Linked DNA regions of Homo sapiens: all the other regions are linked to region 1. The links come from fine-mapping of genetic effects on gene expression. A gene starts in region 1. Each other region holds a variant in brackets. All regions are shown on one strand. Distances are between the middles of the regions.

Evidence for each region. PIP is the estimated chance that this variant, and not a neighbour inherited with it, causes the effect.
Region 2: its variant is fine-mapped to the expression of PDE4DIP in whole blood (INTERVAL, PIP 0.98).
Region 3: its variant is fine-mapped to the expression of PDE4DIP in whole blood (TOPMed, PIP above 0.99).
Region 4: its variant is fine-mapped to the expression of PDE4DIP in whole blood (Lepik 2017, PIP 0.95).
Region 5: its variant is fine-mapped to the expression of PDE4DIP in whole blood (TOPMed, PIP above 0.99).

Annotation. Positions count from the first base shown.
Region 1 is chr1:148,841,757-148,846,861 of GRCh38, reverse strand. It overlaps PDE4DIP (phosphodiesterase 4D interacting protein), which reads right to left and starts at 2,434. Exons shown (of 47, transcript NM_001395426.1): 1 at 2,068-2,434. The coding sequence starts at 2,087. RefSeq lists enhancers at 1,541-2,263, 2,264-2,985.
Region 2 is chr1:148,350,824-148,355,928 of GRCh38, reverse strand. It overlaps the pseudogene TRQ-CTG9-1. Among named protein-coding and RNA genes, the nearest start is that of RNVU1-1, 9.2 kb to the left of the region's middle. RefSeq lists enhancers at 784-1,593, 1,594-2,404 and a silencer at 2,173-2,272. The variant G/A (reference allele first, on the strand shown) is at 2,509.
Region 3 is chr1:149,023,834-149,028,938 of GRCh38, reverse strand. It overlaps PDE4DIP (phosphodiesterase 4D interacting protein), which reads right to left. Exons shown (of 47, transcript NM_001395426.1): 41 at 4,255-4,494; 42 at 2,108-2,224; 43 at 1,312-1,538; 44 at 236-379. Among named protein-coding and RNA genes, the nearest start is that of NBPF9, 77 kb to the left of the region's middle. The variant G/A (reference allele first, on the strand shown) is at 1,968.
Region 4 is chr1:148,986,701-148,991,805 of GRCh38, reverse strand. All of the region lies in intron 24 of PDE4DIP (phosphodiesterase 4D interacting protein), which reads right to left. Among named protein-coding and RNA genes, the nearest start is that of NBPF9, 110 kb to the left of the region's middle. The variant A/T (reference allele first, on the strand shown) is at 2,087.
Region 5 is chr1:148,935,654-148,940,758 of GRCh38, reverse strand. PDE4DIP (phosphodiesterase 4D interacting protein) reads right to left here. Exons shown (of 47, transcript NM_001395426.1): 8 at 2,895-3,012. It also overlaps the pseudogene RNU2-38P. Among named protein-coding and RNA genes, the nearest start is that of PDE4DIP, 94 kb to the right of the region's middle. The variant C/T (reference allele first, on the strand shown) is at 2,579.

The DNA of each region.
Region 1 (5,105 bases):
GTCATCTAGCCTTTGCCTGAGTAACTCCAGGGTCAACAATCTCTTTACTGCCCATACTGCCCAGGCAGCTAACTTGTTAGAAAGCTTTTTTTTAATTTTTTTTTGAGACGGAGTCTCGCTCTGTCGCCCAGGCTGGAGTGCAGTGGCGCGATCTCGGCTCACTGCAAGCTCCGCTTCCCGGGTTCACGCCATTCTCCTACCTCAGCCTCCCAAGTAGCTGGTACTACAGGCGCCCGCCACCACGCCCGGCTAATTTTTTTTGTGTTTTTAGTAGAGACGGGGCTTCACTGTGTTAGCCAGGATGGTCTCAATCTCCTGACCTCGTAATCCGCCCCCCTCAGCCTCCCAAAGTACTGCAATTACAGGCGTGAGCCACCTCGCCTGGTCTTTTTTTTTTTTTTTTTTTTTTTTTTTTTTGAGGCGGAGTTTCGCTTTTGTTGCCCAGGCTGGAGTGCAATGGCTTGATCTCGGCTCACCACAAACTTCTCCTCCCGGGTTCAAGCGATTCTCCTGCCTCAGCCTCCGGAGTAGCTGGGATTACAGGCACGTGCGACCACGCCCGGCTAATTTTGTATTTTAGTAGAGATGGGGTTTCTCCATGTTGGTCAGGCTGGTCTCGAACTCCCGACCTCAGGTGATCCGCCTGCCTCAGCCTCCCAAAGTGCTGGGATTACAGGCATGAGCCACTGCACCTGGCCAGAAAGCTTTTTCTTTACACTGAGCCATAACTCGCCTCCCAACAACTCGCTTGCATCGGTTGTTCTGTCCTCCTAAGAGATTCTAATGTGATTCAATCCCTCTACCACCAATAGCTCTTCGGAAATTTGAAGGAAGCTACCACATCCTCCCCACTCCCAGTCGTCATTTCTCCGGACTCAGGAGTCCCAGGTCCTTCCTTTGGCCATCCCTCAAGGCATGGCTTTGAGTTCCCTCCTGTCTCTTGATTGTACTTATTTTATCTAATGATGCCCAGAACTAAGCACAGCCCTCTCGGAGAGGCCCAAGAGGAGCAGAAAGGAGCCAAAAGTAAAATCATCACTTTTGATCTAGACAGAATCTAGACAGCCTACTTCTTCTGTCAACAAACCCTAAGCTTCAATTTGCTCCTTCTTTAATATTCACATTATACCATTCACTCCTGTTGAGCTTAGCAATCAACTAAAAGCACCCAAGTCTTTTGCATAAGCCCCAAATTTACCTTCTGTGTTTGTACCGTCTTCACTCTCTCAGGAGTCAGAGCGCTCATTTGGCCCCACCCCAATTCTCCAAAGCTAAATCCCACAGATGGAAGCGTATCTGTTATAGAGACACCGCTGGAATAGTCTCCCTACCCTCCCACCCACTAAAAAACAGAAACGAAGTCTTTGTCTCAATACATGGTCTCTTATCCTTACCCTTTCCTTGAATGGGGCTTCATTTTAAAGTGTGTCTGGGGGAAGGACTGGAAGAAAACGCAGTTTCACAGGCCATCTCCAAAATCTGACCTAAAAGCCAACTGTTGCCTGGCCTCAATAAAGCCTGAGCAGTGTGGTGCCCTGATCTCTTTCCTTCTCCATTCCTCCCCCAAGTGGGCTCCAACTGGAGGTTGTGGAGATGAGTGCTGCTGGGCTCTGCTCACTCAGTCCCTTTGCCTTTGTGTGAGTAGTGACAGATGAGGCTGAGAAGGAAAACGTGGCAGGGTGAGAATAAACCTGATATTGTTCAAAGCATCTGACATCAAACATATCTCTCAAGAAGACCTACTGGAATCCCTCTAGCCACACGAACAAGGAAACGACAGAGAACCATTTCTACAGAAAGTTCCAGGCGGCCTCCCTGGGTATTTTTAACATCAGGACTCGGTGGAGGGGAGAGTCATTAAGCAAGGGAAACCCCGTAAAACAGAACATGTGAAAATGACCAAGAGAGGTGGGCTGGGAACCAGGCAGGGCGAGGCTACAGAAAAGGGAAGCTGTCACGGGACCCTGGTGGTGAGGGGCGACCTCTCTCTCCCTAAGGGCGCTGGGGGAGGGGAGGGAGGAGGACCACCAAGTCTGGAGCGCGGCGAGAAGGAAACAGCCCACCTACCTCGTCCAGGTCTGCTCCATTTTCCAGGCTCTTTCCTTAGTCTCAGGACGCTCCTCACCCGGGAGGGGAAGCAGCCTGGGAAAATGAGAAGCCTTGCCCACGAATCTCCAGCGCAAAAGGCAGCAGCTTTTTCCTCCCCAGCTCCTTTCTGCGTCGGCGGCGAAGAGAGAGCTCTGCTCCCTGCTTTTTTAGAAAATGGATTTGACGTGGCCGAACCTGCGGCTAGCCGTGCGACCCGCACAAGGGAGGGACTGTTCTCAGTAGGAGGCTGGACTCAGAGCGGCGCGGCGCCCGGGGCTGTTTCGTGAGCTGGAGCCAGCGGCTGCCCGGGCCGCGGTGCGCGCACTCTCCAGGCTGAGACACGACTGGCTGGCACGAGTTGCTCGGCACCAGCTGAGCTGTCAACCGCGAGCGGAGGCGGGGCTCCCGACAACCAGTGTGCTGGGGCAGAATCGGCCCAGGTTACACGCCCCCTGAACCACCCTCGCGTCTCCCCGACCCCTCTCTCGCTGGCTCAGATGAATGATGACGGCAGAGGGCAGAGAGCTTAGAGGACGCGGTACCAAGCCCCGTCCCTCGCCCATCCCAACGAAGGTCTTAGAATACAATCAACCAACTACAGGAAGAATTTGTAGAGGAGGTTTTCTTGTGTGTCTGCATCGCCCCACCCACAGGTAACCCCAGAGCCAGAGATGGAGTCTAGGAAGGTTTAGGAGCAATCCCGGCTGAATGCAGATGTATACCCTACGTGGTCATGGAACACGATGTTGTCTTCCTAGAGATGTGACATGCCAGTTTCACCATTAATCCAGGGACAGGACCCTTCATCAGGAAGGGAAGCATCCCAACAAAACCTTACAGCCCTATTAGCTGCCTGTATCCCAGACATCTCCTGTTTTAGGGTATTCTACCTCCTCGTTTTTCAGTTTCGCCAGCAACTGGGCTCTACCAATAGCTTCAAGGAGGGAGAAGCTTCCTGACTCCCAGAACACTAGAAAAGCCTCAAGACAGTAGCCATCAGGACCTCGACACTCCCTTGTGACTGTTTTAAGATCATGGAAAAGGCCTCTTTGGAGATGGCATTGCCTCAGGCCCTGTACCATGTACTTATGTATCAAGATTTAAACAAGGCAGACATACTATAATTAGAGTGCTTGCCACCCTGAAGCTCCTTTTTAGCTTTCAAATAAGACCGTTTTATTAAATGACATAATCACTGTTATTATTAGCACTATCACTGACCTTTTTTTTTATCTGAAAAAGGCTTTATAGTGCCCACATGTGGCAATGTTAATTTCGTTGTACTTGTTTCAGAGATGATAAATTTGAGACCCCAAAAGGCCCAAAGTCTCTGCTAAGGTTCTGATACAGGCTGTGTTCTCCATTGGGTGGCCCCAGAGATATGTTCCCTGAATTTCTAAAGCTACGACCCACAAGACTTCTCCAGGATGAATTTATTCTTTCAGGCCTCCTAGGCATTTAACTCAGGAAGAACCTGGCATGCCTGGGTATTGGTGAGACTGTGGGGAGTCTGTGTTCTTGGGGGAACCTGTCATCTGTCTGTTATCTCTTGGATTGGTTCCCCTACATACTAGTACAAAGTAGGGGTGGGGAGGGGAGGATAACAAAACATTTGAAGGTTTAGCAGAACTGTCTAAAAAGCCCCTAGTCTAGACTCCTCCAACACTTGATTTATTGGTAGGACCACACTGCTCCAGAGCTCAAAATGTTACCAGGAAAAATTTCAAGGTCCAGTTTGATCTTAGACAAGGCTCACAGGCCACCTGTCTTGAAAAGAATATCCTGTTGCCTCTGATGGGGGGGAAGAAAAGGCAGGGAGAGTCAGATTCCCATCCTTCATACCAAAGTTGGGGCTATATTTAGCTTTGTCTCAAATCAAATTATGGGCTACCGAGTTGTGGAGAGGAACTCTGTCTACAGGCAGCTCACTGGATTCAAGAAATGATAGCACTAACTAGGTGAGCTGTGGGGTCTCAGAAGTGACGCTAGAAAATACGTTCATGTATTTTTAAAATAACTTTTTTCAAAAGTTTATAGCACATTCATTGTAAAAACATTTGAAAAATACAGAAAGTTATATAGATTACTCAGAATACCCAGGGATCTTCAATATTAAAAATGTGTTGCATTTTTTTCCCACTCTTTAAAAAATGCATCTTTTAATCCAAACACCAACTCTTTCTTACACACATGGGTATATTCTTGAGAAGAGAAATTTCCTTGTTGTTTTAAAAATTATACTTATTGTCAAAAGAACAATTTTTTTGCGTTAGATTTCAGAAGAAAAATATTCACCCATATAACCACTGCTACAGCACAAATGTTTAAATTTCTCCAAATTCCCTTTAGTCATTATCTATATATATTAAATATCTATTTACATAATTACGATTACAGCTTAGGTATATGTTTATATTCTCCTTCTTTCACTTAGTAAATATTTGTCCATGTTTTTAGGGAAAGTTCATAGTTATTATTCTAATGAGTGTACAATATTTTATAATATTAGTAGGACCATAGATTACTTAAAATATTCTACTATTGCATAGTTATGCTGTTTCTGATATTAGACTGTTATAAATAATGCCTTAATGAAGAGCTTTCTGCCTTTATCATTCTCCTTTTTTGAATTATGCTATGGTTGAATGTATGTATGCCTTCAAAATTCATACATTGGTACTTAACACCGAGTGTTATAGTACTACAGGGTGGGGCCTTTTAGGAATATGTCTTAGGAAGTGATAAGGCATGAACACTCCACTCTCATGAATGGGATTAGTGCTCTTAAAAAAGAGGTTGAAAGGATTGCTCTGGTCCCTTTTGTCCTCTGTCCCTCCAGCCATGTGAGGACACAGCATCTGTGGCAACAAGGAGCCATCTTGGGAGCAGAGAGCAAGCTCTTCCAGACACTGAATCTGCCAGCACCTTGATCTTGGTCCAGCCTTCAGAACTGTGAGAAATAAATTTCTATTATTTACAAATTACCCAGTCTAAGCTATTTTGCTATAGCAGCAGGA
Region 2 (5,105 bases), 490 kb after region 1:
TTGAAGAGTGATACTTATGACTATAAAATATTTAAATTCAAAATACAAATGATGGCTGGGCATGGAGGCCAGCACGTAATCCCAGCAATTTGGGAGGCCCAGGCAGGCAGATCACTTGAGTCCAGGAGTTCGAGACCAGCCTGGCCAACATGGCAAAACCCCTGTCTCTACAAAATTAGCTAGGCACCGTGTTGTACACCTGTGGTCCCAGCTACTTGAGGAGGACGGGCTGAGGATCAATTTAAACAATATCATATGTAAAAACAATTTTTTTTCCTTTAAGTTTAGTCAAGTGAAGCAGTGGGAGTGGAGAAGGAACAAAGAAATCTGTAGCTAGTTGTGATAATTGGTTGTAAACAGGAAGGATTTTTGATGCACTGTACAGTTACCAGTTACATATGCTCTAAAGCTGGTGGTGAACAGCAACAACAGCAGTGTTCTGGTCCCCCCTACACTTTTTTCTAGGGATAACAATTTTGTTTTCTTCCTTCCTTCCTTCTTCCTTCCTTCCTTTTTTCCTTCTTTCTTTTCTTTTCTTTTTTTTTTTGCGACGGAGTCTTGTTCTGTCGCCAGGCTGGAGTGCAGTGGCGCCATCTCAGCTTCAGCTCACTGCAACCTCCGCCTCCCAGGTTCAAACGATTGCCTTGTCTCAGCCTCCCGAGTAGCTGGGATTACAGGCACGCGCCAAGACGCCCGGCTAATTTTTGTATTTTAGTAGAGACGGGGTTTCACCATGTTGGCCAAGATGATCATCTCCCGACCTCGTGATCCGACTGCCTCGGCCTCCCAAAATGCGGGATTACAGGTGTGAGGGATAACAATTTTCAATGCATGCAGTCAACCTCTACATATTGTTGCTCTTTGACTGCCCAGTTTTCCATCCTAGGCCCTGCAGTCCAGCCTGCAAGGGGAAATGGAATTTGTGTGTTTTCCTTCCTATCAGTCCACTCCAAGGAGCCAACAAGGCACCTCTCTCCCGTCTCCCACCCCACACCTCCGCACGCCCTCCAAACTGAGCCCCTCAAAGACTGCGGTGTTTTTCAGTCCTTCGTAACCGCTGAAAATTTTCATATTTGCAAAATATGAAAATCAGAGCGATGGTCCTGAGCGTCTGGCGGGACATCTTAGCTTGCTCTCAAGACCCACCATAAGCCGCATCCAAAGTGTTCCGCCAAGCAGAAGAAAAGATTTTTCATCTGTCGCGTCCTAAGGCATCTTCTCCTTGGGGCAAGGTACTGGCAGGAAGAGGGGGAGCCCCCACCGTCCCGCACTCATCCCTCCGAGCTGCTCAGGCTCCTCTTACCCGTGGTGCTGCGGGAGACCGGCCCGGCGACCGAAGGTCAGAACCCGCGCTCCCGGCCCGGGCGCTTGAAGAGGCCGCCGCGCGGATTTCTCTTTACGGTTGAAATTTTGGGACGAAAGAATGAGATTTCCTGGAGTCGGGTTCCAAAGCTTAGTGAAACAGCGACTTTTAGGTCCCGCAATAGAGACGTAGGAGCTAGAAATTAGGCATGGAAATCTGAATATGAAGAACAGAGTAAATTAACATTCGGAAGAGGATGGGCCATCCGAATAAAACAGTGTTACTTCTAAGTTAGGTCTCAAACCATCTACCCTAAACTGAGACATAATCACCAATGACTGAGCTAACCCCATCAAAATTTCTCACGTCACCGTTTACTTACCAAAAAGACAATGGATGCGATTACGAGATTTCCCGAGTGAAAGGAATCTCGGGGTCTAGCACTGAGGGGCCGCAGCCCTTTTAGTGTAGGAAACCTATCACCCCGAGGCCCAGGGTCGCCCTGAGAGGGGATGGGGACTTGTTCGGTTGCTGGGACGCTGGCTGCGGGGTCCGGGCCTCCGATTGCAGGGGGCCGGGAGGCTCGCCCAGGACTGGGACCAGGATTGGTGACTCCGATGGGATGTTTGGGCAATTTCCCTGTGGAGCAGGCCACTGCAAGAAGCCGGTTTCTGGGACCCAGACCACTGAGGAGGAAAAGGGAGAGGAGGAGGGACATCGTAGGGGACGCATTGCGAGGCCGGAGCAGGAGGGACACGGGAGAGGAGGAGGGACATTGCAGGGGACGCATTGCGAGGCCGGAGCAGGAGGGACTAGGGGATTTGCAGCAGCAGAGCTTCCTTCCCCGGGACCCAAACCTTCCTTTCTCTTCTTTAACCCAGGACTTGGTACGAAGGGCAAATGTAAACCACATCCCTTTCACTCTGTCTTTGAGGGTGGAGTTTGCTTCCCAAAGTGGCTTCTGGCTCCAGAGTAAAAGGCCAGCAGACACCAAGGTACCACCGAGATTTGAACTCGGATCGCTTGATTCAGAGTCCAGGGTGCTCACCATTAACCCATGGAACCAGCTGTTGAGAATACTCTCAGTTATGAGCATTTGACAAGTGAATTCTCAGCCTCCATAGTCACCAGAATTTCCTTTTCAGGTATTTTTTTCTCTTTGTCACACAGGACTTGAGTACCTTTAATCTACAATAGGAGGAGTC[G/A]CCCCAGACTTACCTCTCTCTGCCCTTCTCTTTAGGTTTCTATCTCAGAGAATGAGATTAAGCACCTTTCAGGATTAGGAACAGAGAAGAGCTATATTTAGGCCTCCACTAAAGCCAACAGTTCTGCCTGGGTTGCCAGAGTTTCCTGCTCTGAAATAAACATTCTGCCGAGACCCTCTACCCGCTGGGGTTTCTTTCTTTTTCTTTGCAAATTTCCTTTTCCCTTTATCCATGGGGCACTGATAACCATTTCTGGAACAAGATTTGGGATATGCTGGAATTTCTGCTCTTCTTATTCTGCCTTCTTCTCCTCCTCTTTCTCCTCCTCCTCTCCTTCTGTTTCCAGTCCCCTCTCTCTCCTGCTCCCTGTCTTCCTCACACTACCCCCACACCCATTTTCCCCAGCTCCCTCCAGCTTTCTATACTTCCTGCCTCCTCCTCCTTCTCTGCTCCTTTTTGGCTACCGTTCCTCTTCCTTCTCTAGGCTCCCACCCTACCCACCACCAGCCTCCCACACGCAGCCTACACTAACAGAAGAATGGCTACCACGAGCTGAGAGGAAGTTGAGGAATATGTTTCTAGTCAGGACACTTTGGGGGATCTTTGCTGGGGATTGTGAGTGCGGTGACACCAACCGAGATGATGAATATCAGCCAGTCCTTGAGGCCTGGGGAGGACCAGCAGATCCAAGGCCACCCCATACCTGGGGTGACCCAGAAGAGTCATGTTCACATTCCAAAAGGCTAAATCTGATTGCGAAAGTCCAAGGAAATTGAAAGCAGTAGGAGCCATCGTCTTTGCAAGTCCAGTTCCAAGTGGAAGGATCATGGTGCTTCCTTCCAGTCACCACAAGGTCAGCACACAGGCATTTGCATTGCCTAGGACTCAACTGGTACCCTGGATCCCTGGCTAGGGCCTGTCCAGAGAAAAGCTAGGCGTGGGGCCCATTTCCACCTAGGCAGAGGTTCCTGGGGAAGTTAGGTGCTCACCAAGAGATTGCCCCTTACCATCCTCCTGAGGGTGTGTGGAGCCTCAGCGCTGCTACCTCTTGGACTCCACCCTCCGGATGCCACCACCTCCCACTGTCCAAGCCTTCCAGTGAAGTCTCCAAGGCTCTGATTTTTGAATCATCCTGATTTGGTGCGTCAAGAGCTGCCTCCCACAAAGTGAGCAGATGTGGAGAGCTGCCAGATCTAAAAGGTAAAATCGCAAGGCATTGCCAGCTAGATAGGGACAGAGTTCCCTCTCTATTTGATGATTTGGATTCAAAGGGTAGATGTCATGGCCCCTAAACATCACAGCATGACCAGGGCATGCCACCCACGACCTGCAGTGCCCTTGCACCTGGTTAGGTGTAAATTATTTTACTGAAGCAGACAAGTGTTCTCTTCTGGACTTTTTCCTTCCTTAGTGGCTAGATCTCTCTCTCCCTCTCTCTCTCTCTCCCCCTGAGTCCCCCCATTCTCTACCCACCTTTATTTTCTCTATTTCCACCCTGTTGCCCCTCTTCCACCTGCTTTCTCCTGTTCAGCTTTCATGGTTCACCCCTTCCTTGCCCACTGGCATCCCCCAAATTAAAGCTGCTGCACTGTCCTGGGTGGGGAGGTGGGTATGGCTGTAGACAGTGCCCTCCAGACATGTCCAGGATGGGGAAACATAGTGCAGCTGCCAGCATAATGCTTTAAAAGAATGGCCACTTTCAAAAGCCTTTCACATCTCCTAATCTGGGATCTTTTGGGACTAAAACGTTATGGACCATAGTGGAATTCTTTTTCCTCCAGGACCTTGTGGTGGATGCCTTCTTTCACTGAGCTTTCATGTGTGGCTATTAAGTGCCAGTCCCTGCTCTTGGACAGGGACATCATTGTGAGCAAGTCTCAAGTCACTACTCATGGAGTGGGTCTGGAGCTCACCTCTGCAGGCATCAAGAGGTGTCAGAGAGAAAGGGGCATGGCCAGTTTGTGTCTTTCCCATGTGGCCACTCACTGAGTCCTGGGGAGTGGAAGTCAGTGCAAGGAAAGAAGCCCAGTGAGAAAGCAAATGGACAACATCAGACCTGGGGCTGAGGCCCCCACCTGCAGCGGGGCAGCCTCTGAAGCAGGCAAGGGGCAGCAGGGAAGGTCGTGGCCTGGTGTAATCTGGTGTTGGGTGCCCCAGCTCATTCATGTGGATGCCCAAACTTACCCAAAGGCAAGATTCAATATCTCTGTTCTTCAGAAGAAAATGTGTCTTCAGAGGAGAACGGAGAGGTTGGGGAACACTTTCTTACCCCCATGCTAACTGTACTTGATGTTACAGTATGGTATCTCTGTGCTATAATTAGTTAGCATGTGGTCATTAATGGAAACGATTGATGGTTTAAGCCCATTCCCAGATATTCTAGTCTTCATCTAAGTTCCCTCCCTCCCTCTTTCCCTCCTTTTCCTTCCTTCCTTCTCTTTCTTTTTAAATAGACCACTTTGCACTGAAATCTAAGTTCTTTTTCTGACATTTAATTCTCTCACAAAATTTGCCAAAATCTCTGAAGCTGCCTTTATCTTTCAGTCAGGGAGCTCATTCTGTAGCCTGCAGTTCCTCCCTGTCTCCTTCTCCTTTGA
Region 3 (5,105 bases), 180 kb before region 1:
TTTCTTAACCAGGGGACAGGGGGCTGGTGGGGAATGGGATATATTCAGAGCTGTAATGAAAGCAGCCACCATGGGTCAGAGATGTCCCTCCAGGGACACTCCTCTAAGTTCCTGTCTATCCCAACTCACTATGTGGCTCCTGATTTTCTGGAAAAGCTGTGACATTGAGGAGACAGAACAGTATTGGAGGGCAGGAGAACTGGGTTTGAACCAAGAAAGGGCACTGGCATCTTACCACTTTGCCAGGCAGCACAGGGATGTGGGTGCTTGGCAGGGCCGCTCTCCAGAACATGGTGAGGAGGGAAGCTGACTCCTCTAGGGCATGGTGCAGGGCACTGGTGCTGCTCCGAAGCTCATGAATACCTTTGCTGCCTAGCACCTGGGGAAAGGTAACACCACAGGAGCGGAGAGATTACTTTCTTCCCCCTGCATGGGCTCAAGCTTCCTTTGTGAGTGAGGCATAGAACATGGGCCTGCTTGAACCTGTGAAGCCCTCACACAACCATTTGCAGCTCTCAGAACTAAGGTGCTGCTCCCTTTACCAGGAATGCCTTCCTCCACCTGCAGAACCCACAAGGCTTTCAAAACTCACCCCCCTTGCTATGTCCTCTATGAGCCTGTTACCTTCCTTGCCTGAGATAAATGACCACATTTGTATTGGAGCTCTCACAGCACAGAGGATGACTTCTCATACTGTGCCTGTAGCCCCTTACTGTGCTTATCTACTTGGGTGTGTGTCTTGCCCTCTAGTGTGGGGGCTCCGTGGAGGCAGGGCTGTCCCTACGCATCCATGGGTCTCCAGCAGCTCAGACAGCACAGCCACAGGTTCCTGGTCTCTCTCACTGGCAAGGTGCTCTCAGAAGCTTTGCTGACTGCCTTCCCTCCCTCTATGCAGTCTGCACAAGGAAATGACATGGCTGCCAGGCTTCTCACCCCTTCCACATGTGGGGGCCATACACCTGCAAATCCTTCAGTTTCTATCCATCCCATTGAGTTGACTCTGCCCACAGATGGTCATGTGCCTGCATGACTATGGTAGATAATAAGCTACCAAAGGCTGCTAGGCAATGCCACATGTTTCTGTGGGGCTGAGGGGAAATATCCAGTCAGCTACATCTGGAACAGAGCAGAACTCACAGTGAAAATAGGAGATAGAGAAGAAAGGGCCTGGCTGCTATACATGGAAGAGGAAGTCTCAGCTGTTGAGAGATGCAAAGCATGAAAAAAACAAAAATGGTGGGAGAAGGAGTTAACATCAAAGGAAGAAAGGGCACAGGGAAAGAGTGCACCTAAAGCTTCAGGTGTGATTACCTCTGTGCCTTGGGCTTCAAGGCCAGGGAAGCTGCACGCTGATCTCACAAGAGACACTATCTTTTTGACCAGCAGCTTGCCCTCCGCAATCTGCTGTCTTAGGGCACTGTAGTCATCAATGTGGCCAATGACATGGCGGCCATGCTTATTGGCAAAGGAGCCATCAGTAGCATCACCCTCTAGCTTGGGAGGGGTCTTCATTACTGGAGAAGTATCCAAACCCAAGCCTGAAAAAGAAAATGACAACACAACAGAATCTTCTGTTATTCATAATGATATCCTCAGTTTGCTCCAACTAAAAAAGAGGTAGGGAACAAGAAAAGGACGAGGCCGGGAACAAGAAAGGAAGCCTGGGAATGTACAAGGGTGGGGCAAAGTCCATAGAGATCTTCTGGCTTCTATATTTTTATAATCTTTCTTACATTATCTCTTAATGATAAATTTGCCAGGAGACAATTTTTTCCTTATTGGCAAATGAAATAGGATGAATCATAATAAATAATAAGTTTCTGAGTAGAGAAGACACAGACAAGGAAGTCAAGCTGGATACAGACAGCATTTTCAAGAATAGAGAGATTATGGTGCAATGAAGCAAAAACAGCAGTAGGAAAACTACAGGAGGATGAACAATGGCAAGAAAGGCAGCCACAGAAGGT[G/A]CAGGGAGTAGGGCTAAAGGCCTTGGGGCATGCAGAGAAAACTCTCTAAATACAGATAATATGTTTAGAGACAACAAAAGGTTGTTTGCATTAATCACTTTCCATCATCAGTCCCTGGGCCCTTTAGTTGCCATATTTACCATTTGCTCTGTTGATTATGGGCGTTTCTGAGCCAGGAGTAGAGGAAGCAGAGCTGGGGAAGACCAGAGCTGGGGAATTCATACCAACATCCCGGACTGGAGGGGACACAGCTGAATCTAGGGGGTAAAGGCAACCACAGTTTTCAGGAGCCCTGGAACACACTGCACATGAAGCACATGCACACCTAGCTGTCCCCACTGAGACCTAAGGTGGCAGGACTCTCCTCTTACAGAATTATCCATACCCCACAAGCCAAAGCAAAATCAAAAGCCTATGAGTCACTGAGTTCAGAATGTTTCCATTCTTCAGAACAAAAAGATATTCCTGTAATTGAGGGGTGTTCCATGAGAACGTAACTTCTAGTTTGAAAAATTATTAGGTGTATTTTTATAAACCGAGTCTTAAGTATAATTTGTGTGTGGTATCTAATATGATGCCCTGTAACTAAATGTAATATGTATAAATATACATAGTACATATTAAAATCTAGAATCAAAGAATCAAGGAATGAATGGATTCATGGGGGACTCAACATTCTAGTCATCATTCTGATGAGGTAATACTGAAAAAAATTGACTTGTATGAGAAGAACGGAGACAGAAGGCTTGGTGGGTTAACATTGTCTTGCTGGAGACTAAAAAGCAACCCTATGGTGGAGGAATTGGAAAATATCACAAAGAAGGTAGAAAAGGTCCTGCTCAGGCAAGTGTGGCCCAGTGCCTGCTTTCCAGCTCAGGCCTCCGGGGTGCTAGAGAAAGAGGGGCAGGGACTGCATCAGTGGGGCTGAGTCTTGGCTGCTGTATGGGAAGCCAGTGAGAGAAGAAGGCCTGGTTAGAAGGAAGAGTTGGAGACATAACTGAACACCACAACCATCAGGGCAGCCCAGAGGAGGGCAAGGTGTCCAACTAATGTAAGCTGAGCAGTGCCTGGTGGTCAGGCGGTTTGCTTGGTGGACCACATGTGTTTTTTTATTGAATTGCCAAAACAGCATAATCATGTTATTGTCACCTTCATTTGACAAATAAGGTTACTGTCAGATAAATGAGAATCTACAAGAACCACAGAAAAACAAAGATTAACATGACCCAGAAATAGCTGGCAGGAGAGTTTGAAAGCTCAGCTTTAGAGAAACTGAACAGAAGTGGTTCCTGATTTGAATAAAATTGAAGGTATGGCCATGGAGGTGAGTGGAGATGGTGTACTAAACGGTGTATCAAAAGGAGAAAAGGACAGAGGAAGTAGAAATTGAATGATTTAAGAGACTAGGGGGACACCATTGACATTTCAATGAAAACTGGGAGAAGTGAGATTGATAGAGGATATTGAGAAGGGGGACCTGGTCAAACACGCCTATCTGAAAAGGCAGGCAAGGGGTGGGGTAGAGAAAGCGAATGATGACCACCCGAAATAAATCACCCACCATCCAGGACTTCCCCAGAGCCCTGTTTCCTTAGGGGCAGGAACATTTTACCATACACTGAGTTCCCCACCTGTGAGGGAAAGGGGGACTAGAGAATCTGGGAAGGTCGGCAATACTGAGACAGGGCACAATGAGCTGGAAGGAACACAGACTGAAAATCACAACATCTGGTTCTGATCCTGGCTTTGTCTATAACTTCTCTAAATCCCCGCTTGTCTGTTAATATCTCAGGACCTAAGTTTTCTTATGTGAAATACAGAGATAGCAAAACCTGCTTTACTTCAGATGAAATTATATATGTGAAAACACTTGGCTAAAACTAAAGCACCAAGCAAATCCAAGAAAAAGATATGAACATATACAGCTGCTAATTATTGAGTAATTCTTAGTGTGCCAAGCACTTGTAAATGATTTCATTTAATGCTCAAAATCATATAAGGTACATATGATCATTATCCTCATCTTAAATATAAGGAAACTAAAGCTTAAACCTCTGAGACTTTAGACACCTTGCCCAAATCAAACGACCTCTAAGTGGTAAACTCAGAATCTGGAGCCCAGTCTGACCTAAATCCCACGCTTTCACTCAGGTTGCTAGACTAGAGCATCTCTGATTTCAACCTGACCCTAAGGAGCATGGACCAGGCAGATTACACCTTCTGCCGCAGAACTTCCTGGTGATCTCCCCACTGGCCAAGGGCTTTCTAAGTCCCTTTTCCTTCCTACCTTGGAGGAGCAGCTGCTTGTTTCCAGGGTCAGTGCTGGCTGGGAAGTTCTGGTTAATGGAGGAGGGGCTGAGGCTGGCTTTGCCAGCACCGCTCTCCAGCTGCTGTTGCAGCTGCAGTCGCAGACAATTGTTCCCCTGAATGCTCTGCTCCAGCTGCCCTCTCAGAGCTCGTACCTCTGCCACCAGGTGGCTCAGGTCACTGCTCAAAGGGATTTGGTGACAGGCATCCAGGCTGTAAGCTGAGAGAGAAGGAGTCTGGTAACATTGACCCAAGTATTTCCAAGCACTTGTCAGAACCCTCCTCTGTGACATTCTTTTCTGCCAAGGACCCCACTATCATCTGAGTCTCATGCAACCCATCTGTGATGGAGATGTCACCATTTCTGTGTGTGGCCTGGGGATGGCACTGAGCTGGCACACATCCAGTCTGAAACTTCCCTGCGGCTTAAGTTACACACATGCACCTATAGAGCATTTGATTGGCAGATGAAGATAAGTCCATATTTCATCTCCATAGTAACCTTAATCCTGTAGGCTAAAGTATAGGATACTCCAAGGTAGAAGGTCAGCACTGAGCTAGAGAAGGGTAGGGGATGAGGAAGAAAGAGATTTCATAGTCCTCACTCTCAAAAATGAAAGAGAAGGAGGAGGTCTTTTGGTAGCATGTGAGAATGTGAGTTGGGCACCTTAGACGAGGGATTATAACTGAGTTTTTCAATTTCTCTCTCTCTCTTTCTCTCTCTCTCTCTATATATATGTGTGTGTGTGTGTACATATATATACACCTACATATAGTGTGTTTATATATGTTGTGTGTATATACATACTATATATAGGTGTATATATGTGC
Region 4 (5,105 bases), 140 kb before region 1:
CCCGCTGACTCTGATTTCTTCCTTTCTCCATATACATGGGGCAGAAATTCTCCCTAGCCAGCAGGGCTGGAAAGAAAAATAGAACTTTTTGTATCACAGACACTTTCTTACTCATACTCAAGCCTGAGCCTCACAACATAAGCTGACTTTGCCTGCACAGACCCATTTCTAAGGAGCCGACTGTCGGATGCACTGGTTACCCCACTCGAATGTCAAGAAAGCCTGAATTATTCCCCACTGCCTGGCTACATAAAAACTTTCTCTTCCATAATATGAGTCCAACATGCTTAACCCTTTCCCCACCACTGAGTGCCTGGAGATTAGAGCTGCCCTGAATCTCTCAGAGGTATCTATTGTTGGGATCAGTTGTGCATAGGGTGACAATCTCTCTGAGGAACTTCCCTCTGGGGGTCCTGTGTCCTAGTAAGGTTCAGGTCTAGTCAAGATTCAAGACACCAAAGGATTCAGTTGTTCCCTAATTTCTTCCTCTAACCTCCCTTCCTCCTCACCTCTCTCAAACTCTTATTCTATGCAGACACCCTTTGCCTGAAGGGTTTCTTGCACTGCTTTATCCCCGTGGGATTTAACCCATCCTTTCATTCTCCAGAGATGGACACAGCCACTCTAGGGCCCAAACATCTACACCTTGCTCTAAGGTACAAGTAGCTGCAGTTTGTGGTATGGGCAAAGGTCTAAGGCAGCACTGACCAAGAGGACTTTCTGCAATGACAGCAATGTTCTGTGCCAGTGTTGCCCAGTACAGTGGACACAGTCATATATGGCTATTGAGCTTTGAAATGTGGGTAGTATGGCTCACATTTCAAAGCATTGAATCTTAAATTTTATTTAAATTTACTTATATTTAAATGACTGCATGTGGCTAGTGGCTACCCTATTGGACAGCACAAATCTAGGGTGTGTCTTCCTCCTTATATTGATTAAAATTAAGACTGTTCATACATTTTAAGACCAAGAGCTATGTTTTATATACTGTATTTTTCAGGAAGTGTAGAAATTTATTATGGTTAATTTGTCAAAGAAAATTTACTGTGACACTCACTGTGTCTTATAGAACCTCCCCAACTTAAGAATCTTGAAATCTTGTTCTGATCCTAGCCTCGGCAACCAACCAGTTACAACTCCACTTCTGACCACTGATTAACCTGGACCTCTAAGAGATTACGTGGTGAGTCCAAGGTTACACAACTAGCCCTCACTAGAGCTGCGCCAGTAAGTCAAGACTCTGGACTCTTAGACAGAAGCCACTCACTTTTCCTTCTGGTGACAAATCTGATCTTTATCTTTGCTTCTTCCTCCAAGACCAAAGAACCTTCTGTTGAGTTCAGACATCCAGGCATGAAAGGCTCTGCTTGAATCATGAGCATTCACTACCCAATACAGATAAGGGGCTTACCTTATCTCCGTAAGGAATTCGACGGAGACAAATAAATGCTCATCTCATCTCGACACTGCCACACAGGGGTTTTGTTTCTTCCCCTTCATTCTCTCTTTTTTAAGCTAGCTCACAGTCTTCTTCCATTATGGCAGCTTTAAGGGTTGCTCAGCCTTTTACCAATTTGAATTAAAATGCTGAAACTTTTTCTCCCATGTTTGAGGGGGCAGTTCACATCTATATATTTGCAATGGCCCAGGCTGATCTCATGGAAGTGCTAAGAGGTAGTAAGTATGCTGTGATAACAGCTTAGGTTTCCTCATCTACACCATGAACTTTATGTTAACTTTGGATCAAGGAAGGGTCCTGTTCAGTGAAGCCTCTACCACCTCTACCACTTAGCATCTTTAGAGGTCTGTGGCAGACAGTGTACAAGAGTTATTTCCAATACTTACTCATTCAAACCAACCCCAGAAACCATCTCACTCAGGATACTAGCTGAGTAGAGGTGTATGGACACATTCCCTAATCTTTGGCTGCTTTAAAAACCTACTGAAAACCAGGATACTAATTTACCTAGGACACCCACATCATGTTATGCTTACTTTGGAAAATCTTTCCCTGTACAACAGTAGCGATCACAATCTTTTATGTTTTTCCAGCAAAGGAAATGAATTGTCTCACTCAGTGACA[A/T]AAAACAGACTGTTCACATTGTTTCTCTTTTGAACATGGGGCTAGAGAAGGATCCTGTAGTTGAAGAAAGCACAGCTCTATGAGGTCAGGATCCTCATCCCCTACCATTGTTGCTGGGTTGTGGAGTCAGGCTGGGCCCACATCCCAGGACCATTCCTGCCAGGTTCCAGAAGCGAGAATTGGAAAGGGTGACTATCACTGGTCTTGAAGGTTTTTATCTGACACTTTCTGCCCTCCACTTATCTTTGGCAGCCTTTCTGGTGCCACGTCTGCATTCTTGGATAATGCTCCATCTTATTTCACTTAAGAGCAGGATGCTATGGTTCTGGCTTCATAAGGAATTCGACGGAGACAAATAAATGCTCATCTCATCTCGACACTCTGCCACACAGGGGTTTTGTTTCTTCCCCTTCATTCTCTCTTTTTTAAGCTAGCTCACAGTCTTCTTCCATTATGGCAGCTTTAAGGGTTGCTCAGCCTTTTACCAATTTGAATTAAAATGCTGAAACTTTTTCTCCCATGTTTGAGGGGTAAAGCTAAAAAATTTATAGAAAATATGGGAATAAAAGAGTAAGTTATCTCATACAAGGTCCATACAAGACATTAGACATCTTTTACCATTTTCCATTTTTTTAAATAAATGAGAGAACTTCTCTTGTGTGATACCCTTTTCTAAACTTTTACTGCACAACGAAACACTGTCTTCAGAACTAACTTGGAATATTTTGAATTTCTAATTTAAGGTACCTATGATTTTATATTGATGACTCGTCTGCTTATTTTTTGATAAAATATAAAATAGCCTGCCGCCTTTAGATTCTCTGGGAGCTAAGAATCTGTTCATTTAACTTGCTTCTTCGAGATTAAGTTTTACATGTTAGACTGGCAATTTTATAAAAAACTTTTATTTGAGGCTTCAATAAAAGTTCTCAACTTGTGGTTCTTGGAAGTTTCTAGGCTCTGAACAATACAAAATGGAGGTGATACCAAGATGTCCCTTATTTAGAAAAGTATTTTCTATCAGCTATCTAATTCTACAAAGTACACAAAAATAAACCTCTAAAACATAAGACCATAAAATCCTTGGGTGAAAATGTAAGCGTTATGCAAATATAAGGTATTCTTATCACTGAAGCAAAAATTCATACTTTTGTAGAACTTTTTAAATTGAGTATGGCATAATAATTAAGAACAAGAACTATGGAGATAGACTGTCTTGATTTGAATTGTGCTTTTATTGTTAGTTATGTCACTTCAGGCAAGTCATAACCTTTCCATAACTAAGTTTCTTCATTTAATAATTAGGGTTAAGAGTGTTACCCACTCCATACTGTTGTGAACTTTAAAGGGTTTGCTGATTTTGAAGTGCTTAGAACAGTGCTTGGTACACAGTGTGTACTCAATAAATACCATCCTTAAACAATATTATTATTGTTATTGTAAGTAAACTGAAGTAGTCCATGGGCTTATAAGTTGAAGACTGAGAAAGTTGAAGGCCACAGAACCTAAATAGCATCAGCAGAAGGAAGTTTTATACTTGATGTTACTATCTGAATGATCTTGACTGATTCTACCTGCACTTCTTCATTTCTGAATACTTGTTTCCCCAGCAGGAGGCTTGAAATGACACTCTTTGCTCTCTGCCTCACAGGACATTGAAAAGGTAAGGAGTGACAACTCTTTGGCTGAACTCTTTGGAATAGGTGCCTTACAAAAAGGACTAATCATCATTAAATGATAACTGTCTTAAAACTCCAACATGCACAAATAAGCCTTAGGGGGAACTTCATGACCTCTTTTTTTGTTTTATTTTGCTTTACAGATGAGGTCTCATTATGTTGCCCAGGTTGGTCTTGAACTGCTGGGCTCAAGGGATCTTCCCACCTCAGCCTCCAAGTAACTGTGACTACAGGTGCATGCCACCACACCTGGCTCATGACATGTTCTTTAGTAATGAGTCCAAACTGGGTGGAGTCAAGACCATTTCCCCCCAATTCTACTCTGTAGTCATTATCTTCCTTTAAGCCACTAATATGGGATAAACAGAAAAGGAGTGATGTTTTTCCATATAGTTACTTAGAACATAGCAAGAGATCATATTTTATTAATTTTAAAAGGTGATCTGAAGAACTAAAACTTTAAGCATGAATAAGTTGGCAGTGCCAAGTGTTCTTTCCTTCGGTACCGGGCCCTTGTGTCTAATACTCTCAGCCCAATTTCACTCTGACTCCCAGGTACACTGCCATGCGTTCATTACAAGAACGCTCACATTTTCACGTCATGAACCAACTATTGCTGACTTTAATGTTATGGTGCTGTAATGTTATGGAGAGAATCAAGGAAAAGAGGCCTCCTATCAAACTACAATTTCACCTGCACACATTCCCTTCAGGATCATAAGAAAACTATTAAGATTCCATATAGTCCTCCATAGTTTCTGCTAAGAAATAAAATTCTCTATCTAGACAGATTCTGATCGTGGAACAGAAGTGGTAGAAAACTGCTGTCTGCAGTCAAACCCCTTTATGGTGTATCTTTGTCTTTAAATTGCAACATCTCTTAAGTAGCCTTAGGGCTTTCCAGCTCACATGTTTCAGAAAGTAGCTGTTTTAAGTTACTTGAAAAGGCCAAATCATAATCTAAAATACTTTTGGGGGTATGAAATCCCATTAAAATTCTGGAAAGAGTTTCTACTTCTCCAAAAGGGTAATTATTCAATACAACTACAGTCTTCTATCCTTAGGCTAACCAAGGCACATGTAAATTAGGACTCCCAGGCAGACCAGGAGATATGACCACTGCACCTATTTTGTGATGCCATAATTCTGTAATGTCAAGAAATTCTTCCTGCTCATGGTCTCTTTTATTCTTCAAAGAAAACGAGAAATAGGTTTTTCTAGGAATGTTTAGAGACAGCACTACCCACCACAGTTGGCTCCTGAAACCTCTGTCGTGCTTTCTGCTATTCTCCTACAGCAAAGAAAGCAAGGAGGGTTTTTAAGGTAAAGTAGCCTATGTG
Region 5 (5,105 bases), 94 kb before region 1:
AACAAGGAAATATGCTATGGGAGGCTTTCTATTCTCCACACTTGAGAGGACCAACTATCAGCGGCCTCCTGTGGCAGAGCTTTCCAACTTGGGTATTCCAGCACAGTGTACCTCAGCATGGTCCACCACTGTGCAAAGATGCTGATCCCCTCAGCTCTCAGGGTGGTGCATGGGTCCTGAGGTGGCCATAAGCAATTGCCTCAAACCATGAGCAGCCATGGGCACTTATTTCAGAATACCATAGATGTACACTCATTTCCTATGAAAATGAATTTTCTATGAAAAAGGGTAGGAAACATTGTCTTATAGAACAAACAGCGCAATGTATCAGGTTTTGAAATGTACAACGTATTGGGTAATAACAACAATAAATTTTTATTAGGCAATGTTTAAAAAGCATATCAATTTAGTACAGTTTATATGATTTGATGCATTTCTTCTGCCCAATGGTCATGCAATATTATCCCCTGGATGCTGTACTTATTCTTGTTCTAAGCATCCTTTTAGAGTAGAATATAAATAATTTAGTCTCTTTGAAATTATAATCTTTTGGTTCTTTAAGTCTGTTCTGAAAACTGGTACCAAACCAATTCCTTAATTAGCATTGAAAATACTGAACTAAATATATTCATTTCAGTGCTTACCAAAGATGATGAAAATAAGTATATGTACAAAATATTTTAGTATTTATGTGCCTGTAAATACAAAAGGAGCAATAAAAGTGATTTCATTTCAGAAGGTGAACATTTTGAAAGAAATAATATTCATGTAAATTCTGAACTAAAATAGAATGAAATAAAATTCTGAAATAAGATAAAAATAGAATGTTAGCATTATAGGAAACTATAGAGATTATTTGAGCTAATCTTCTCATTTTATGTATATGGAAGCTGAGAAGTGACATATCCATAGTCATACAGCTAATAAATAATCAGGATGGAATCGCTTCTCGGCCTTTTGGCTAAGATCAAGTGTAGTATCTGTTCTTATCAGCTTAAATAATCAGGATGGAAATTCAATTCTTCTTATTCTCAGTTGAGCTTTTTCTAATTAAATGTATTACGAAATATTTTCAAGAGTCCCTTAAGAAAATTTCCACATATTTCAACATGTATCTTGCAAAAAGCCTATGAACTTCAATTTGTATTCATACTTGTAAAATTATGTTCACACATTATTTCTTGAGTTTGTTAACCAATGCTTTCCAACCAAAATGGAGCTGCAGTCTAAGAAGTTTGTAATTGTGGCCAAGATAGTAATTTTTTCCTGCCCTCATAGTGGCCTAAGCACCCAAATTGGCCACCTCCAAGTGAGAAGCTTCATCCATTTACCTCTATACCTTACAAATATTATCATTTGCCATGAAATGGAAAGGTTGGGAAGCAGTGGTTTAAACTAATTCTTATCATTGCTCTTTTATCTTGACCCCAACCTTTCCATATGTGAACCAGTAAAGTAAACCACCCACATTTTGTCTTATCAGTAGTCTAAGACCAGTGCAAGAATGTAAGGATACCAGGTAATTGCTTTTGTTGTTTGGGTGCAGGTATATTCTAAAGTTCTTTTAGAAAATATCTTTTTAGTAAATTAAAAGTTGAATGAAGGAGAGGAGTTCCCTTCGAGGTAACTTCCCAGAAAATCAATGCAATTATTTTTTACCACAGTGAGTTCTCTTTTCAATATTAAAACTACATTATGGCCAGGTGTGGTGGCTCACGCCTGTAATCCCAGCACTTTGGGAGGCCAAGGCGGGCAGATCACCTGAGGTCAGGAGTTCGAGACCAGCCTGGCCAACATGGTGAAACCCCATCTCTACTAAAAATACAAATATTGCTGGGTGTGGTGGCATGCACCTGTAATCCCAGCTACTCGGGAGGCTGAGGCAGAGGTTGCAGTTAGCCGAGATCATCCCACTGCACTTCAGCCTGGGCAACAGAGTGAGACTCCAACTCAAAAAAAAAAATTTTTTTTTGGAGGCAAATTTCTATCATTATCTGATACACTTGTACGGAAATAGTAATCACCATTTCAACTAGTACCCAGCACATTTTCAAGGACCTGGAAGGTTCATACTCCAATATATACAAACAGAGAATATGCCTAGCTCATAGATGATCAATAACTGTTTATTTGAACCCATAGTTTGTGTACTTCGGCACAGTATTTTACAACTTAACCCTCAAAAAAACCCCTAAAACATTGTATGTTCTATATAATTATAAATCACTTGATGTGGCTGGCAAATTCTAAGGTGGTCCCTATAATTCTCACCCACTGGCCATCACATCTTTGTGTTATCCTCACCCCTTGAGGATGGGTAGAACCTGTAACTTCTAACCAATATGGCAAAGGTCATGAAATGTCACTGCATAGTTATGCTATGTTATATGAAAAAAGTAAAGAGGTCATATAGATGTAATTAGGGCTGCTAATCAGTTGATTTTAAGTTAACGAAAAGGGATATTATGCTGGTGGGCCTGCCCTAATGAGCCCCTTAAAAGAAAGTCTAGAAGTGAGAAAAGTAACAGACTCTTTCTGCTGCTGGCTATGAAGAAGGAAGCTGCCATAACTTCTACAG[C/T]TACACAGCAATAAATCCTTCCAACAGCCTGAGGAGCTTAGAAGCCGATCCTTCCCTAGGTATGCCTCCAGATGAGAAAAGAGCCCAGTCTACATCTTGATTTCACACTTATGAGACTCCAAACAGATCTCAGCTAAGCCATATCTGGACTCTTGACTCACAGAAACTGTGAGATAACAAAAATAAGGTGTTTTAAACTGCTAAGTTTGTAGTAATCTGTTACACAACAATAGATAACAAATACACTTAGATATTAAAAAGCAGGGCTTATGAAAGCATGAAGCAAGTGCTTCTGGATGTACTGACCAAACCTTACCTGCACTTCCATGCTAGTTGGCTCCTCCAACAGATGTAGCAGTTGTTGTTTCTCCCGAGATAGCTGTTCTACAAGCCTCTCCTGGGCAGCCAGGCTCTGATTCAGTTCTTCAATTCTCCTGAAGCAAAGGAAAAGTAAGGACAGTAATTATGATCATGATACTATTATTACCTTATTTTTTCAGCCCATTCCAAAGATAGCATGGTCTAGTATAGCAGGTTTTTATCCTTTTGGATCATTGAACCTTTTGACACATTTGTTTAGAAAACCATGTATTTTCTGCCCAGCCCCCAAATATATACACAAACAACTTTTTGCTTACATTTTCACCACGTTCATGGACCTCCTGAAGTTAATCCATGGATCTTTAGACCATAGGAATTTAACTCTTGGAATAAGGGCCTAGAATTTTTTGGTGGTGGTGGTAGTGGCTGTTCCATTCAATAAACGGTTCTTGGATAACTATTTTGTGTACTCAATGCACTCTACCAAGTACTGGAAATATGAAGTTGGAAAAGAAACAATCGCTGTTTTGCAAAAATTTAAATTCCACCAGCATGTGTTTGCTAGTGATTTGGAGAGTAAGAAGACATACAGCTACAGTCACGTACCATATACTGTTTCTGTCAACATTATGTCATCATACTGCATGTATGATGATGGTCCAATAAGATTATACTGGAGCTGAAAAATTCCTATCACCTAGTAAAGTCCTAGCTGCAGTAACATCATAGTGCAATGTATTTCTCACTTGTTTGTGGTGTTGCTGGTGTAAAGCAAACCTACTGCACTGGCAGTTGTATACAAATATAACATATGTATAGTATGTAATACTTGATAATAAATGTTACTGGTTTATGTATTTACTATACTTTCATTGTCGTTTTAGAGTGTACTCTTTCTACTTATTAAACAAAATAACTGTAAAGTAGCCTCAGGCAGGTCCCTCAGGAGCTATTCCAGAAGAAGGCATTGTTATCATAGGAGATGACAGCTCCATGTGTGTTATTGTCCCTGAAGACCTTCCAGCGGACAAGATGTAAAGGTGGAAGACAGTGAAGCTGATGATCCTGACACTGTGTAGGCCTAGGCTTGTGTGTATGTTTGTGTCTTAGTTTGTAACAAAAAAGTTTAAAAAGTAAAAAAAAAAAATTAAAAATTTAAAAACAGAATAAACCTTTTCTAGAATAAGGATATAAGGAAAATATTTTTATATGACTACAAAATGTGTTTTAGGCCTTCACATTCATCCACTTCACTACTCACTCGCTAAATCACCCACAGCATGTTCCAGTGCTGCAAGTTCCATTTATGGTCAGTGCCCTAAACAGGTGTACTGTTTGTTATCTTTTATACAGTATTTTTACTGTATCTTTTCTATGTTTAGATACACAAATGGTTACCATTGTGTTACAATTGCCTACAGTATTCAGTACAGTAATATGTCATACAGGTTTGTAGCCCAGAAGCCATAGGCTATACCATATAGCCTAGGTGTGCAGTAGCCTATCCCATCAAGGTTTGTGTAAGTATGCTCTGTGATGGCCACACAATGAAGAATGAAATTGCCTAAAGATACATTTCTCAGAACATATCCCTGTAGTTTGTGATGCATGATTGTATATAAGCAAATAATAGTAATAGAATATAATAAATGCTACCAGAATAGAGGCACCATATAGTACATTGAGTGCTGCCATAGAGCTATAGGATGAAAGATAAAGAAATAATTCATTTGACTTGAAGGAGTATAGCGATGCTCAGGAGAAGAAATTTTAAAGATTGAGTGGTTTCAGAGTAAACAGACAACCTACAGAATGGGGGAAAATATTTGAAAACTATGCATTGGACAAAGGTCCAATATCCAGCATCTATAAGAAATGTAAACAAATATACAAAAGAAAAGCAACCCCATTAAAAAGTGGGCAAAGGACATAAACAGACACTTCAAAAGACGTACCTGCAGCCAACAAGCATATGATAAAAAGCTCAATAACACTGATCACTAGAGAAATGCAATCAAAACCACATGTGATACCATCTCACACCAGTCAGAATGACTATGGTTAAAAAGTCAAAAAATAACAGACGTTAGTGAGGTTGCAGAGAAAAGGAAACACTTATACACTGTTGGTGGGAGTGTTAAATTAGTTCAACCACTGTAGAAAGCAGTATGGTGATTCCTCAAAGAACAAAAAGCAGAACTACCAT